4 linked regions of the Homo sapiens genome follow. The protein of the gene in region 3 purifies or fractionates together with the protein of the main gene of each other region. This does not show direct contact. Each region holds a gene or a part of one and is shown on either strand. Other genes may lie near its edges.

What was found.
Region 1: the proteins of ETS1 (region 3) and SPTBN4 purify together in Homo sapiens (affinity purification with mass spectrometry; one large-scale study listed by BioGRID and IntAct). This does not show direct contact.
Region 2: the proteins of ETS1 (region 3) and ZBTB7A purify together in Homo sapiens (affinity purification with western blotting; one study listed by BioGRID). This does not show direct contact.
Region 4: the proteins of ETS1 (region 3) and ATP2B1 purify together in Homo sapiens (affinity purification with mass spectrometry; one large-scale study listed by BioGRID and IntAct). This does not show direct contact.

The regions. Positions count from the first base shown.
Region 1 is NC_000019.10:40,511,351-40,515,500, reverse strand, and holds part of SPTBN4 (spectrin beta chain, non-erythrocytic 4), read right to left. Parts: intron 2,896-4,150; coding exon 1,947-2,895; intron 191-1,946; coding exon 53-190; intron 1-52.
Region 2 is NC_000019.10:4,053,287-4,057,436, forward strand, and holds part of ZBTB7A (zinc finger and BTB domain-containing protein 7A), read right to left. Parts: intron 2,236-4,150; exon of another isoform or gene 2,223-2,235; coding exon of another isoform or gene 2,088-2,222; intron 1,962-2,087; coding exon of another isoform or gene 1,947-1,961; coding exon 685-1,946; intron 1-684. UniProt on the Homo sapiens protein: Transcription factor that represses the transcription of a wide range of genes involved in cell proliferation and differentiation.
Region 3 is NC_000011.10:128,479,224-128,483,373, forward strand, and holds part of ETS1 (protein C-ets-1), read right to left. Parts: intron 1,229-4,150; coding exon 968-1,228; intron 1-967. UniProt on the Homo sapiens protein: Transcription factor. Directly controls the expression of cytokine and chemokine genes in a wide variety of different cellular contexts. May control the differentiation, survival and proliferation of lymphoid cells.
Region 4 is NC_000012.12:89,614,632-89,618,781, forward strand, and holds part of ATP2B1 (plasma membrane calcium-transporting ATPase 1), read right to left. Parts: intron 2,409-4,150; coding exon 2,171-2,408; intron 1-2,170. UniProt on the Homo sapiens protein: Catalyzes the hydrolysis of ATP coupled with the transport of calcium from the cytoplasm to the extracellular space thereby maintaining intracellular calcium homeostasis.

The sequences.
Region 1 (4,150 bases), on a different chromosome or scaffold from region 3:
GTGAGTGTGGAAGGGAAGGATGGGAGGGACTCCCAGCCCCAGGCCCTCCTACCTGCTGTTGAGGTGGTCCTGGCAGGAACGCACCTCATCTGAACTGGGGTGGCCTCCTTCCACCAGCTCCTGGACTGTGTGGTTCACGTCCAGAACGCGGCCCATCAGGCTGTTCATCTCTTGGTCCAGGCTCTCGAATCTGCAGGAGGATGGAGATGCTCAGACACCCGAACCCTGCGGACCTTGGTTTTATGAAATACCTTCTACTGGTTCTACTCCTAATTCTCAATCCACCCTTCTTTTCAGCCTCCTTTGTGGGCTCCTTCTCTTCTACTTGCTGCTTATTTTATTTAATTTAATTTAACTTATTTAATTTAATTTAATTAATTTATGTATGTATGTATTGAGACAGAGTCTCGCTCTGTCACCCAGGCTGGAGTGCAGTGGCGCGATTGTGGCTCACTGCAACCTCTGCCTCCCGGATTCAAGCGATTCTCATGTCTCAGCCTCCCATGTAGCTGGGATTACAAGCATGCGCCACCACGCCCAGCTAACTTTTCTATTTTTAGTAGAAACGGGATTTCACCATGTTAGCCAGGCTGGTCTCCAACTCCTGATCTTATATGATCCACCTGCCTTGGCCTCCCAAAGTACTGGGATTACAGGCGTGAGCCACCACGCCCAGCCTCTACCTGATGTTTAAATGTGAGATTCCTCAGCAGCAACTCCACCCTGAGCCCTCTGGGTTTTCCTTCACACCCTTCTTCAATGATTCCACCCAGCCCCACAGCCTTGGTCTTTGCCCCTGAACTCATGACAGTCACACCTCAGTCTCCAGCCTCAACCTCTTACCTTTTGAACCTGTCTTCGACCTCAAAGCCTACTGTATACCTTCTTGGGGCTATTCACACCCACCTGACTCAAATTTGTTCTTCCTCTGGGCCCCCATGTTGGGGACAGCACTGTCATCTGCCAGGCCAGAGCCCTGGGCTTTGTTTTGGAAAATCGCTCCAGCCCATCAGTCTCCATGGCCTGTTTACTTACCTCCCGCCCTGGTCTAATCTTGTTCCGCTCCATCTGGGTCCCCAGCCCAGTTGCCTCTCTGGGTTCCCAGCCACAACTCTTACCCGCTCCAACCTGCCCTCCACATGGCAGCCACTGAGGTCTACTTTAAGCTAGACATGGTCCTCCCATCTTTAAATCAATGTTTCAAAGAACTGGGCAACTGCAGGCACAGTAGGGGCAAGGAGCAGCCCTGTGTTTCCAGCAGTGCCCAGCACAAGACCTAGAAAGGCATAGGCACTCAGTAAACACCTGCTGAATGAATGTATGGATGAATAAGATGCTCAGACAGAGTGGTGCAGAGGGGGAATAGGCATTGTTCACCCACTAATTGAACAACTCATTGCTAAGTCAGCCAACAGACAAGTCAGTATACAATATGTCATGGGATGGTAAGTGCTACAAAGAAATGTAAAACAGGATGAAACAATGGAAAATCACAAGAGTCAGAGCTATTTTAGTAGCTAGGGAGGTGACATTTATGCAGAAGCAATGGGAGGCCTCCCAGCAGAGGGGCCAGGCTGAGGTGTCCCTGTAGAAGCATAGGTCGTTGATTTCATGCTTGGCGAATGTAAGCCTGGGTAACAAGAGCAAATGCTGGGGGAATGCTTCCTCTACCCCCAGGCATTTGCTTCGTATTCTGCATGTATGAACTCATTTACCGTTCATCACAAGCCTGGGTAGGGACTAATATCACCCCCATTATACAGGTGGGCAAGCTGAGGTTCAGGAAGATTAGGCAGGTTGCAGAACTGTCACAAAGCTGGCTATGGGTGAAGCAGGGATTGGAACTCCTAGTTCCAGCTGAGCAAACATGGGAACTGTTGAGCCAATGAAGGTGAGACTGGGTGCATGAGGAAGGGGACCCCGGAGTCCCACATGTGCGCGCTCACCGGTGCTGCACCACCTCGACGTCGTCGAGTGAATCCGGCACACGCATGGAGAGCAGCCATTGCTCCTTCTCGCCGATCCACAGCTCACACGCGTGCACCTCGCCAAACATGCGGTAGACAGCGAGCGCGTCCCGCAGCCACTGGCGCCTCAGCGCCGCCACTTCGGTCACCTCAGCGAACAACTGCTCTGCTTCCACCACGCGCACCTGCAGCGCCACCACCAGTGGCCCTGCGCCACTGGCACCCCCGAGTGTCGCCAGCTGGCGCCGCAGGCCGCTCACGGGCCCGCGATGTGCCTCCACCTCCCCGGTGAGCGCGCGGTGCTGGCGCGCCAGGCGGCGGCTGGAAGCTTCGTCGTGGCCGAAGTCACCGGCGGCTGCCAGGCGGTAAGCGTCGCGAAGCCAGTCCAGCAGCCCGTCGAGGTCAGCGCCGAACTGGTGCAGCGCCCGCGCCTCCTGCAGCCGCCGCTCTCGCCGCGCCGCCGCCTCTTCCAGCCTCTGCCAGCGGCGCCGGGCGCTCGCCGCGCGCTCCGCCAGGCCTACCAGGTGCACGGTGTCTGCTCCCGGGCCGACGGCACCGCCGGCCGCAACCAGCTCCTCGCCACACCGCAGGGCCTGCTGCAGCAACGCTCGCCGCCCGCCCAGCTCGCCCTGCAGGATCTTGTGCTGGGCCAGGAGGCGCGCTGTGCTGGACAGGTCATGCGCGCCGCCCGCTGTTCCCGCTGCGCCCGCTGCGCCCGCCGCACCGCCGCCGCCCGCAGCCTCCAGGAGACGCTCCTTGTCGCGCGCCCAGCTCTCGGCCTCCTCCAGCTCCTGCAGCAGCGCCCACAGGCTCCGCGAAGCCTCCAGCTCCGCGCGTCGCCGCGCTGCCTGCTCCTGCAGCTCCGCCAGGCAGCCGTGCACGTGGTTCACGCGGTTGCAGATGACCTGCGGGTCGCAGGGCTGGTAGCCTGAGCCAGGAGAAGGGGAGCATCCAGGATTGGTCACAAGCCAAGGGGCGCCCAAGAGAGGATGGTGCGGGCTACCTACCCTGTCCTTGGTGTGACTTCATCAGATGCCGGGTCACGTGGCTCCTCCTCCAGGCAGCCTTCCCTGACACCCCAAGGCTGGAGCAGGCTCCTCCTCGACCCTCTCAGGCTTCTCTGCTTCCCCATCCTAGCCCTGACTACTCTGTGTTGTCATTGCCTTGTCCTGTCTCCCCCACTGGACTGAGAGCTCCTTAAGGGCAGGACCTGGGTCTGTCACACCCTATCCCAAACACTGCCCAGCAAAGGGTGGAGCCCAGAGCTGTAGCCTAGTGAATGTAGTGATTTGTTGACTGAATGATGGATGGATTCAGAGCATCTCAGATTCTGTATATTTGAGTGAAAATTGTGCTTATGTCAGAACTGAGTCAAATGAAACTTCTTTGTTTTTTGTTTGTTTGTGTGTTTGAGACAGATTCTTACTCTGTTGCCCAGGCTGGAGTGCAGTAGCGCGATCTCGGTTCACTGCAACCTCCACCTCCAGGTTTAAGCGATTCTCCTGCCTCAGCCTCCCCAGTAGCTAGGATTACAGGCGCCCGCCACCACGCCTGGCTCATTTTTGTATTTTTAGTAGAGACGGGGTTTCACCATGCTGGCCAGGCTGGTCTCAAACTCCTGACCTCCAGTGATCCACCCGCCTTGGCCTCCTAAACTGCTGGGATTACAGGCATGAGCCACTGCCACCGGCCAACTTCTCTTTTCTTAAACCATGTTTCTAGGTTCCCTCTGTCATCCTCTGTTGCATTATCTATCAATCCCAGTGGTTATCTGCACTCCTTTTTCTTTTTAAAATAGAGACAGGATCTCACTATGTTGGCCAGGCTGGTCTTGAACGGCTGGCCTCAAGCAATCCTTCCACTTGGCCTCCCGAAGTGTTGGGATTATAGGCATGAGCCACTGTGCTTAACCCCGAACTCCCTCTTTTTCCTTAAATAGTTCACCTTCCTCCTGGATGGCTAGTTGGCGACTAGAAAACAGTGAAGTTAATTTAATGGGTCACAGCCAGCATTTGTTTGGTGGAATAGAATAGAAGGAACGGAAAATATCACAATGCAAAACAAGGTCGGGGGAGTATTTTTGTTGTTGTTGCTGTTGTTGTTTGGTATTGTTTGTTTGTTTGATTGAGACAGAGTCTCTCACTGTCGCCTGGGCTGGAGTGCAATGGCTTGATCTCAGCTCA
Region 2 (4,150 bases), on a different chromosome or scaffold from region 3:
GTCTAGGCTGTTCTTAACAGCCACGTGGGTCAGGGAAGCGTTCGTTGGCTTTGGGCCCAAGAGGTGGGGTGTGTCTGTTTGCGTGTGTGTGCATATATGTGTGTCTGTGGGTGCATGTTTGCATGCATGTGCATGTATGTGTGCGCATGTACGTGTCTGTGTGCATGTGCCTGCATGCATGTCTGGGGGTGCGTGTGCATCTGTGTGCGTGCCTGGGTGTGCGTGTGTGCGTGCGTGCGTGCGTGCATGTGTATGTGATGTGTATGTGGTGTGCGTGTGTGTGCGCGCATGTCGGTGTGCGTGTGTGTGCGTGCATGTGTATGTGATGTGTATGTGGTGTGCATCTGTGTCTGCATGTGTCTGTGTAGCATGTCTGTATGTGTATGTGGTGTGCGTGTGCGTGTGTGCGTCTGTGTGTGTGCATGTGTACGTGGCATACGCGTCTGTGCATGTGTGTGCATGTGCGTATATATGTGCAAGTGCGTGTATGTGTGTCTGCGTGTGTGTGGATGTGTAGGTGACGTGCATGTGTCTGTGCGTGTACGTGTCTGTGTGCACGTGCGTGTATGTGTGCGTCTGCGTGCATGTGTGCGTGCGGTGCAGGGAGAGAGGCGGGAGGGGTCGTGAGCGGCGGATGCTGGGGCAGAGAGCAGGACGGCGCCTCCCCCGCGGCGGGCAGCTCACCTGGTGAAGCGGACCTTGCAGATGTTGCACTCGTAGGGCTTCTCGCCCGTGTGGGTGCGGATGTGTCGCGGCAGCTTGCCGGCGCCCTGGATGACCTTCTCGCAGATGGGGCACTTCTGGAAGGCCTTGGCTCGGATCTTCTTCTCCACCTTCTGCGACCAGGCCGGGTAGACGTCGCCGTCGTGGGCGCCGCTGAAGTACTTCAGGTAGTAGTCCATGACGCCCTTGTCGTCGGCCCGCGACTCCTCGTCGCTGTCCCCCGCCGCGGCCCCCGCCCGGCCCACCGATGACATCATCTGCTGCAGCAGCGTGCTGGCCGCCAGCCCGTCCACGTCGGGCCCGTCCCCGTCCTCGCCCTCGGCCGCTCCCGACAGGAAGCCCGGAGAGTCGCCCGGCTCGGGGGCCGCCTCCGACAGCGAGGCGGCCTCCTCCTCTCCGCCGCGGCCGTAGTGGCCGTTCTGCGTGGCGGCCGGCGGGGCCACCGGCGGCGGAAAGAGACCCCCGGTGGGGGCGTCCTCATCCCGCTCTGGCCACAGACCCGGGTTGCTGTCGCCCTCGTCCCCGTCCCCCGTCGGGGGCCGCTCGGCCGGGGGGCCCGGCCCATAGAAGTCTAAGCCGTTGCAGTCGCCCGCGGCCACGGCGGCCACAGCGGCGGCCACGGCCTCCTTGGTGGCATCCAGGTCATCATCGGACGCCCCAAAGGCGGACCACGGGAAGCTGGCAGCGGCGGCGGCGGCCGCGGGGGGCAGGCTGTTCATGGGGTTGCTCTGGAAGAACTCGAGGTACTCCTTGGCGCGGAGGAGGTTGCGCTGATCAATTTGATCTACAAGGTCCAGCTGCCCGGCGTCGGCGCCCGCGTCGGCCGCCAGGATCTGCCGGTCCAGGAGGTCGGCGCACACGTGGCTCACGGCGGGGATCTCCAGCAGGCGGGCGGCGCTGAGGATGTCACCCACGTTGGCTGTGCTGACGGTGAGCGTGGCCGTGTAGGCGAAGTCCATGAGCGCGGTGAGCGCCTCGGCGCTGACGAAGTCGATCTCGTACACGTTCTGCTGGTCCACCACGGCGCCCGACGTGAACAGCTTCTTGAAGTACTGGCTGCAGGCGGCCAGCACCGAGCGGTGCGTGGGGAACTCGCGGCCCTCCACCAGGATCACCACGTCGCACAGCAGGCCCTGCGTCCGCTGCTCGTTCAGCCCACTCAGGATGTCGCTGCTGTGGTCGGGGAACGGGATCCCGATGGGGCCGTCCACGCCGCCGGCCATCTTCCGCGCCGAGACCTGCAGCAGTGGGGAAGGAGAGGGCGCTCGTGAGTGGGGGTGCGGGGGTTCCTGTGCCCACTGACAAGGGCCCGAGGCCCTTGAGAAGCAGCGTTCCACCCTGCTCCCCCAGCCTCACATTCCCACCTGCACGTGAAGGCGGTCAGATGTCGCGCCTTTCCAGCCCCAGCTTCCCCAGCTGTGCACCAAAGCGATACATGCCCTGCCTCCAGCCTCTTTTCTTTTTTGTGTGTCTTTAATACAGAGACAGGCTATCACCATGTTGGCCAGGCTGGTCTCAAACCCCTGGCCTCGGCCTGGCGCGGTGGCTCACGCCTGTAATCCCAGCACTTTGGGAGGCCGAGACAGGCAGATCATGAGGTCAGGGGATGGAGACCATCCTGGCTAACACAGTGAAACCCCGTCTCTACTAAAAAATACAAAAAATTAGCCGGGCGTGTTGGCGGGGGCCTGTAGTTCCAGCTACTCGGGAGGCTGAGGCAGGAGAATGGCATGAACCCAGGAGGCAGAGCTTGCAGTGAGCTGAGATCACGCCACTGCACTCCAGCCTGGGCAACAGAGCAAGACTCCATCTCAAAAAAACAAAACAAATCAAAAAACCCTGGCCTCAAATGATCCAACCGCCCCTGCCTCCCAAGGTGCTAAGATTACAGGCATGAACCACGGCACCCGGCCAAGACTGTTTTCCATCTGTGCATGAGGATAGCCAGATGTCCCGGCTCCCCAGCCTCAGTTTCCCCAGCTGTTCCCAAGTGCAGTCAAATGTCCTATCCTCTAGCCTCAGTTTCCCCAGCTGTGCATGAGAATGGTCAGATGTCCTGCCTCCCCCAGCCTGTTTCCCCAGCTGTACACAAAAGCAATCAGACGTCATGTCCCCAGCCTCAGTTTCCCCAGCTGTACAGGAAGGCAATCAGGTGTCCCACTCCCAACCTGTTTCCCATCTGTACACAAGGGCGGCCAGCTGTCCTGCCCCCAGCCTCAATTTCCCCAGCTGTGCATGAGGACAGTCAGGTTTCCTGCCCCCCATCAGCCTCAGTTTCCCTAGCTGTGCCCAAGAGCAGTCAGATGCCCTGTTCTGTCTCATCAGCGTGAGATGAGGCTGGCAAAACCCACACTGGACGCTTAAATTTCACAAGCACACTGGCACCACCCCTCCGAGGAGGGCCCCCGGGAATGCCTGTTGAAAGGGCACTTTGAGGCCCGGCTCGGTGCTCACGCCTGTAATTCTAGCATTTTGGGGAGGCTGAGGTGGGCAGATCACTTGAGGTCAGGAGTTCAAGACCAGCGACCAGCCTGGCCAACATGGTGAAACCCTGTCTCTACTAAAAATACAAAAATTAGGCTGGGTGTGGTGGCTCACACCTGTAATCCCAGCACTTTGGGAGGCCGAGGCGGGCAGATCACCAGGTCAGGAGATCGAGACCATCCTGGCTGACACAGTGAAACTCTGTCTCTACTAAAAATACAAAAATAGATGGGCGTGATGGCACGTGCCTGTAATCCCAGCTACTCGGGAGGCTGAGGCGGGAGAATCGCTTGAACCTGGGGGGTGGAGGTTGCAGTGAGCCGAGATTGCACCACTGCACTCCTGCCTGGGCCACAGAGCGAGACTCCGTCTTAAAAAAAAAAATCAGCCAGGCGTGGTGGCGCGTGCCTGTAATCCCAGCTACTCAGGACGCTGAGGCAGAAGAATCGCTTGAACCCGGGAGGCGAAGGTTGTGGTGAACCTGGATGGAGCCACCGTACTCCAGCCTGGGCAACACAGCGAGACTCGGTCTGAAAAAAAAAAAAAAAGAAAAAGAAAAAGAAAAAAAAAAAGGGCTGGGCACTGTGGCTCACATCTATAATCCCAGCACTTTGGGAAGCCAAGGCAGGCGGATCACCTAAGGTCTGGAGTTCAAGACCAGCCTGACCAACATGGTGAAATCTCGTCTCTACTAAAAATACAAAATTAGCCAGGTGTGGTGGCGCGTGCCTGTAATCCCAGCTACTCGGGAGGCTGAGGCAGGAGAATCGCTTGAACCCGGGAGGCGGGGGTTGCGGTGAGATTGCGCCATTGTACTCCAGCCTGGGCAACAAGAGCGAAACTCCGTGTTGGAAAAATAAATAAATAAGGAAAGGGCACTCTGAGGCGCTACAGGAGGACGCAGTAGCTCGAGAGAAGTGCCCTGATCTGAGCCATTTTCCTG
Region 3 (4,150 bases):
TTGCTGTTTGTCATCATCCACACAAAGGGTCCCTACATGAAAACATATCCAGGGTGGAGAGAATTATAAGAGAATAAAGGCCTAGACCACATCTGAGTAATCAAAGCTACTTTAAAATAAGCTCTACTCACAACACACTTTCTAATTTTTAGAAAACACTACAATCTTACAGAGAGATCTGATGATTAACACATTAATGCTCCTTGGCTATTTCTCAGATATACTCTCCACATGTTTTTCTGGTTAAGTAGCATGATATGCTACAACCCATTTGAAGAAAGCATTGTTTTGCTCTACTACCAGAGTCTCAATCAAAGTTCAAGCTCTCAACCTACATCTTCCTTTCTCTATGGCCTTTCTTCACCCATCACTATCATAACTATAGCTTTCGCTCCTGGAAGAAAACTGATAATAAAGCCGAGTAAGAGAAGGGGCATTCTCTATAGGCCAGGATGGATCTGGACAGGGCGTAGTGCCACTGAGGATACTGTTCCCACATTTGAACAGCTGGCCTAAGGAGAACCGTGCTGCAGAAGAGTCCAGTGCGGAGGCCATTCAGTTGTGCCTTTGAGAGATGCTGCTGCTGATTTTGTATTTAGAAAGACCTCCCAAGAGCAGACCAGGAAAAATCCCCTGATGCCAGGCCACTAGATAGAGTTTCCAGGAACACCAGATCATTATAGTTCCCTTCCCCCAGACATGGAAAAACACCCAAAATGTAAGTTTCCTACCATTCTTGGAAATGATCCCTTTGAAGAGAATGATACTATTTGCTTCCAAAAATCAATGGCTATTCACAAGCAGAGTGGCTGGAGAGAGACTAAAGAATTCTTAGAGAGACTTCTCCCCCGTGCCCTGCAAAAGGGAGTCTCTCGTCGTCTCTGGTCAGAGGTGCAGAGTGCCTTCCAGGACCCCACCCACAGAAACGTGCAGATGGAGTTGGCCTAAGCAGCGGGAGGGCGCCTACCTGTGTAGCCAGCTAGGGCAGCAGCAGGAATGACAGGCTTGTCCTTATTGAGGTCAGCACGGTCCCGCACATAGTCCTTGAAGGTGCCCTTGGGCTTGTGGTTGGGCAGGGCAGCCGGATAGTCCTCTGAGTCGAAGCTGTCATAGGAGGGAACACGCTGCAGGCTGTTGAAAGATGACTGGCTGCTCCAGGACTGGGTGAGGCGATCACAACTATCGTAGCTCTCTATGCTTTCAAAAGAGTCCTGGCCCCCGAGTTTACCTGGAGGTAAAGGAGGAGGTAGGAAGAGGACAGGGGGAGGAGGGAGTGGGAAAAAAAAAAAACTGTAAAAACCCTCTTATGGAGGACAGATTGCTAATCAGATCTGCAGGAAGGACGGAAGAAGGGAGAGGCGAGTGGGAACAGAAGCTTCAGGGGTCATGGGTTTACTCTGAGGAAAGGGGCTGCACTAGGCCACCATCCGAGGGTCCACGGCCACTCTGCTGCCTGGTTTGAGAACTCCAAGTACAGAGATTCAGAGTCAAACGTTGCTCACATCTGTCGGAGTAGCGTTTGGGTCCTCAAGAGTTCTAAAGCCAGAAATCTAGAAGCTGAGGATCACACATGTTATGATATGATTTCTGGCTGATGTCGTAGGCCCAATGAATAAATGAAGAAATCAGAGCAATGTCAGGCTGAATTCCCCACTCCAGCTCAAGCCAATGAGATGACTTCAAAAGGCCCAGTTTGGAAAACATTTTGGTCATAAGAAAAAAGAATCCCATTAGACTAAGAGCAGATTAGCCTGTTTTGACCTTGGAACTAAGTGCTATTTTTTAGCATTTTTCCCAAATACTATTTTAATATGAAATACATGTACTGACCCTATGCCTTTTCAAATAGAGTAAGATGGTGTAAGATGCTTTTCCCAAGAGATTTTTTAAAATCACACACACTATCACTCTTCTAAACAGAAAACCATATTCTTTATCCTCTCCAAGTAAAATTATGTACTTGAAATTTAAACTTCATTGGAAAAGTGTAGGCAATATTTAAAAGGTTTATTAAAGAGTTAAGGTCCACAGCAGTGTCAGAAATCCTTTACTGTGTGAGTTGCTTAAGGCATTCTTAACTGACCACAAGATCATGCAAGTTCATTAATTTCCCAAACCAGGTTATAAACAGCTGCTATGATTGCACAATAGCTCCTGGAGAAATTTCCATTGGCAAAAATGCCACTAAAAAGGAGGCTAGCAAAAAAAAAAAAAAAATAGTTTTGGAGGAAAACAAATGAATCTAAGAGCGAAAAAGGCTCGCAGGAATGGTTTTTATATGCAACTTTCAGATACTTTTCAAGTAACCTAAGTTAAATCATAGGAGACTAGATGGTCACCTCAATTCAGCACAGGCCAAAAGGCAAAGGGATGTGACAAATGTTTACGGAGAAATATCCGTAAGTCAACTCTTAATTGTTCAGGGGTGGTTGATCTATAAATTTCAAATCCCAGAATAAGGCTGACTTATACAACTTCATATTAGTGTGCCTCCAGTGTATTTTTCCCTCCATGACAGCGGAGATTGGTTAAAACAATAAACATCAAACATGAACAGATGCCCAAACCTAAATTAAATATATAGGAAAATATGTTGCTCCCAACATTGTTTAAAGATCCGGATAAAATGTATTCGGTTGAGTGTGTACTTTTTGTAAAATCCACTGCTGTGGGTTTTCTCTACATCCTGACCCCCTCTGGAACTGCTTTAAACAGAAAGGTGGTGTCATCCGTTTCATCTCATTCCTTCCTCCACTCATCCATTCAGAGGAGGGTAATCTCTGGAAAGCAAACTGAAGAGCTTCATGGAGTTATCAGCCCTGCCCACCCAGTCCACTAGCAAAAGGGCACCTCTTCATTCTTACTAAAAATGAATATATATTTCTTTATAATTCTTAAAAATTCTTTCCCATTTACCCACCAGAAAAGTCATCTTTTTCACCTTTTTAGAGATCATTTAATTTTCTTTCAAGAAATTCACACTAAATGATTTAAGAAAACAGCCTACAACCAGAATGTCAAAGCCTTGTTTTAGCAGAACAGGAAATTCTGTGGCGTCTCATAAAAAGGTATTTGTTCATACCAGCTACTGATCTTCATGGTCACTTATTTTCTCTTTGAGACAAACATACCAAAAGCCTAAGAAGGAGAATTTATATTTTCATCAACACCGCACCAAGTCGATAGTATTTATGCTAAAGTCTCTCTGAAATGATTCCATTTCTATCAGCCAATTTTATACTTGGAGAAAAAGGACATCAGAATTTTCACAAGCAAGATAGTAGAGTTTCCAAGGAGTCCCACTAAGCAAGGGGACTAAACCAAGCCAGAACCAGTCTCTGGCAACCCCCCAAACATGAGGCAAATGCAACCCTGTTGAGAGTTGTGGTTTACAGCGGTAGGCAGCTTTCATTTTAGCTCGATTTCACAACCCTGGTGCTGGGAACCTTCATTTACGGGTATTTTCTCCAAAAATGGGTAGAATCCAACTGGATTAGATACTCAGTTATGCTGCTGCGCTCATGTAGGGAAACCTGTGTTCTCTAAACTGTCCACTAGCCAGCCTTTCTGAGAAGGGCCTCGGCGAGCTCCTTCCAAAGCTATCTGAGTCCACCAAACAGACCTCAGAGCACTCAAAACAGAAGATGCGGCAGCACCCAGCCACCCACTGAGTAGACTCGTACAAAGACAGTCCTTAGGGCCCAAATAAGTGGGGCATAGAAGCACTCTGTACGCTGTAATGCAGCCCGTGAATACTGTACTATGGTTAGTATAAATAACAATCAGCTAACAGTAATGCTTTCGGTCTAGACCAATCACAGCATCTCAGAATCAATTGGCCCTTTGCATAGGCCCTGTTTGCAGCACTTCTAACATGCAGAAAACAGCCCTGCACAAAATGGTCTTCCCCTCAAGTTTCTGTGGCCTGAACTTGGAGGGAGGGAAGAAGAGTGGAGCCAGAAAGAAATACCTCATGTCTCCTTGTAAGGGTCACTTTTGGTCCACAGTCATTAGTTTGGGGTTGGAGGGGTGGTAGGGACCAAAACCAAGAATGAAGAAAAGGAGAGGGAAAGAGACAATTACACAAATGCAAAGCCAGATGCAATTTCAAAACAATGTGACAGGAGATCGACCCAAAGTTACAACATGG
Region 4 (4,150 bases), on a different chromosome or scaffold from region 3:
TCTTCCCTAGCTACACACTTTCTCTAAATATCTTTAGTTTCATCAGTGATTTCTTCAGACTAGCCCACTTTCAGGCTCTGAGGTCCAAATGCTTGACATACATTTGGATGTCTCAGACACCTCAACAATGTCAAAAACAGCGTATCCAAACCCAACATATTACTTCCTACTGGTTCTATCTCCACTTACTTTGAAATCATTCTTTTCTTTCCATCTCCTATGCCACAACTGTGGGCCAAGCCATGATCATCTCTTGCCTGGGATCACTGCAATAATCTCATTAGCTTCCCTGCTTCTACTCTTCTTCATCTCTAATCCCTGTCTTACACGTACCCAAAATAGTATTTTAACAACATAAATCATGTCACTTCCCAGCCTGAATTTCAGAAAATTCAGAGTCCTCACAGCCCAGTAAGGCCAGAGATCATCTCGTCTCCCCTTTCTTCTTTACATTTATAGCCACACTGGCCTCTTTTCCACCTTTAAAATAGCTACTTTTCTCACTTTCACTTGCATTTCTCGTTTTGCTTGGAATGCTCTTCTTGCAGCTATTTACATGGCAGACCCACTATGAACCATCAGATTGCAACTCAAATGCCACATCCTCAGAAATTCTTAATGCAGTCTCTCTCCATTACTTTATTTCATTACACCGTGCATATCTTATATAGCCCTTCTGCACTTGTAATTGTCTTATTTAATATCATCCCCCCTGATATGCCACCCTGCCACCCAGAATATCTTAAGGCCTATGAGAACAGGGACCAAGTCTTATTCCTCCCAGAATTCATTTTTCACTTGACATGGTGTCCATGTATCTATCATTCTACCTACTTAGCTGTCTTCTTCCTCTAGAATATAAATCTCAAGCCTATTCTGGTCACTGCAGTATTTCCAGCTCCTAAAAGAGTGCTACACATTAGGTTTTGAATCAATTAGCTGATAAAGTCACTGAACAAAAGTGGTTTTCTGTTAGTGCTTTTATTTATGTTGCTTCTTTGCTCAGAATATACCTAACTGCTCGCTCTCTTTCTTGGTTTAGATAATACTTCCTCCTTCTTTAAGAATCAGATCAGGTAATTAACCTCTAGGAAGTCTTACCTGACCCCTCCAGTGGTCAATACAGTACAGTAGTCTTTTAAGCACATGTGTTTTAGACAAAGCTGGTATTTTAACACACTAGGTCTATGCTCTATACATTCTCGATTTTTTAAAAATGTATTTTTAAACATGTCTAACGCTCTATACATTTTTGATTCTTAAAAATCTGCCAAATAAGAGTAATAATATGCATACCTCATAAAGGTAGACATTTAAAAAAATTACTTGTAAAACACATGGCTTAAGTATATGGCACACAGTGAGAACTCAATAAAAAGATGCTATTAGGCTAGGTTGGGAACTCGTGTTCTCTGCTCATATAACATGCTCTGTATATACCCAGCAAGGTAGTAATATCTTGGGTTGCAATAATCACGTGTTTGGTTCGTCCCACATAAGACAGTAACTTCTTTGAGGCCGGTGATCAGATCTCAAAACTCTTAAGTCTCTAGTACCTTAGGATAGTGCCTGGCACACAGTAGTTGTTCAACAAACTTAAAAAAGGTGAAAAACCAAATAGCAAAAAAAAATTAAAGAGGGAAATCAGTCTAGAGCTGCATGCCATCCAATATGACAACTACTAGCAAGATATTTTAATTTGAATTAAATAAAATTTAAAAATCCTGTCTTTTAGTTGCACTAGCCACTGAAAACTAGAAGTCAGTATTCACACATGGCTAGTGGCTACTGTACTAAACAATATACAGAACATTCCTATTATCACAGAAAGCTCTACTAGACAATGCTAGTCTAGAGACTGTGAAAACAAATAATGGCACCTATTATTTAATTTAAGATAAATAATAACTGAAAATTCTACCCACTTCAAGGCACTGTGCTAGGTTATGGTGCTATGAACACATAGGATCCCAAAGAGACACTGTCTTTAAAAACCATAAAAGCTAGCATATGCACTGTAGGTACTATTATTTCATTTATCTTGGGTTCACACAGAAAAAAAAAAAATCACAAACACCAAGAATTTTACTAGAAAACTGGTTACAATTAAGGCCTAGGTCCTCTATAGTTATGAGATTCTGCACATGCAGAACACAGAATGTTTCACCACCTCAGGTCTCACAGGATCTTCAATCCCCACAACAGCAATGCATGTAAGGCCGGTGACAATATCATTTTCATTATCCCACTCTGGTTCTGGTTCTCCTGCTGGAAAATCTCTGAATGCAAGACATATGGTTCTCAAGCCTTCTGATGCCATCGGTTCAATCACAGTTTTTACAATATCATCACGGTCCCTTGGTCTGAATACTTTTGCCTCACCATTAGCACTCAAGATTTTGAAACACCTAAAAGGAAATGTTGAATCCAAACATCAATAATTTAAAAAAATAATGGTTAATGCCATTTAAGTGAACTGGCAGGCCTAGAAATCATGGGATCTGATATCTGGAATTTAGAGAATTACATATAATTCATTTTTATAGACTTAAATTCACTTTTCACCCTCCCTTTTACAAAACAGAACTAATATGTATGGTTCTCATTTGACAGTTCTCCATTTATCAATTACTCTAGAACTTCTCTAAACCTTGTCTTTTGGAAATGCAGTGCTTTCAAACTTTCATAAAGAATCCCTGGGTGGCAAAGGAGAATAAACTATATACTTCACCATTTTGGTACAGAATCAGACATTAGTTTGAAATAATACCAAAATCACAAATGTTTTCTTCTTTTAAGGTAAAAAGCCAAGCGTAGTCAACCCCTTACCTGAGATGTTGTTTCATCACCTATATTGTTTTAACCATGAAAGAAAAAAAATAACTTATTGTTAAAATAAGCATTCTATCAGAATGAGAGTTAATGCCAAAAGTTATTTTCAGTGACACTACTACCTTTTCTTTCATTACATAATGAATAAAAATCATACTATATACCTATTTAAAGTTTGTTTTTCATAATGCCTCTCTATACTCCTCTCCCTTGATGATGCCATCTCTTCCTGCTTCTAGGGAGGTAATTCCCAAATCCACATCTTCTGTTTTGTTTTTCAAAGCTTTCCATCACTGCTGAAAAATTCTACCCAGATGTTTTATCAGTACCTAAACCTTAATGGATGAAAGACTGGAAGCTGCCTCTTCACTGCCCATGTAATGTGCATCAACATTACCCTAATCATTTTGATGTAAGTCTAAAATTTCACCTTAATACTTATTTTTCCTGATCATCTCTCTACTATTAGCTCCTAAGTCCTATACATTTCTCCTCTGAACAGCCTCCTCAATGTGTCCACTCCTTTTTATTTCTCCTGCTACTACTTTCTTCTGGTTCTTACTTCAAGCTACAAAGCTACAGCTATTGTAATAGCAATAGCCTTTTAACTGATATGTCTCTAGTTGATTTTTTTTTTCCCTCTAACCCACCTTGTTCCCTGATGCAAGAATTATCTTTAATCACAGCTTTGATGATTCTACTACTTGAAGAAAAAAATACCTCATTTGCATTATCTGGCTTACTTCAATTTTAACTGCTCAGCCCAACATTTAAAAAGTCTCCACAACAAAATGCAAATATTACTGTGGGAACACTTGCTGTATGTTTACTGTCCACCAGGCTTCACACTAGACAGTTGGTATGCATTACTTCATTTAAGTGCCACAGAGTTGGTGGTCATCACCCGCTTTCTCAGATGAGAAAAATGGAAGTAAGGGAAAAATCTGCCCCATATCCAGAAGCTAGTTAGTTGCAGAGAAAGAGTCAATGCCTGATCAGTTTTGACTAAAAAAAATTCTCTCCTAAACCATCTATCTACTACCCAGCAAGCCAGGGTTGAAACAGATTTCTAACCTTTTCAATGAAATCAGGTAACTGAGTGTACTGTGGCAAGAAGAAAGCTGTATATGGCCTGTGTGCCACAAAAGCCCATCACTATTCAGCTGAACTATACAACCAGATATTCCCCTCCCCAGTATGACCTGCATATTCTCATCTCCTTTCCTCTGCTGTGGTTTCCCCACCTCGAAGTTCTCATTTCATACCAAAATCTATCTTAAATGCCACATCCCTACAGTGTGATCTCTCACCCAAAAAC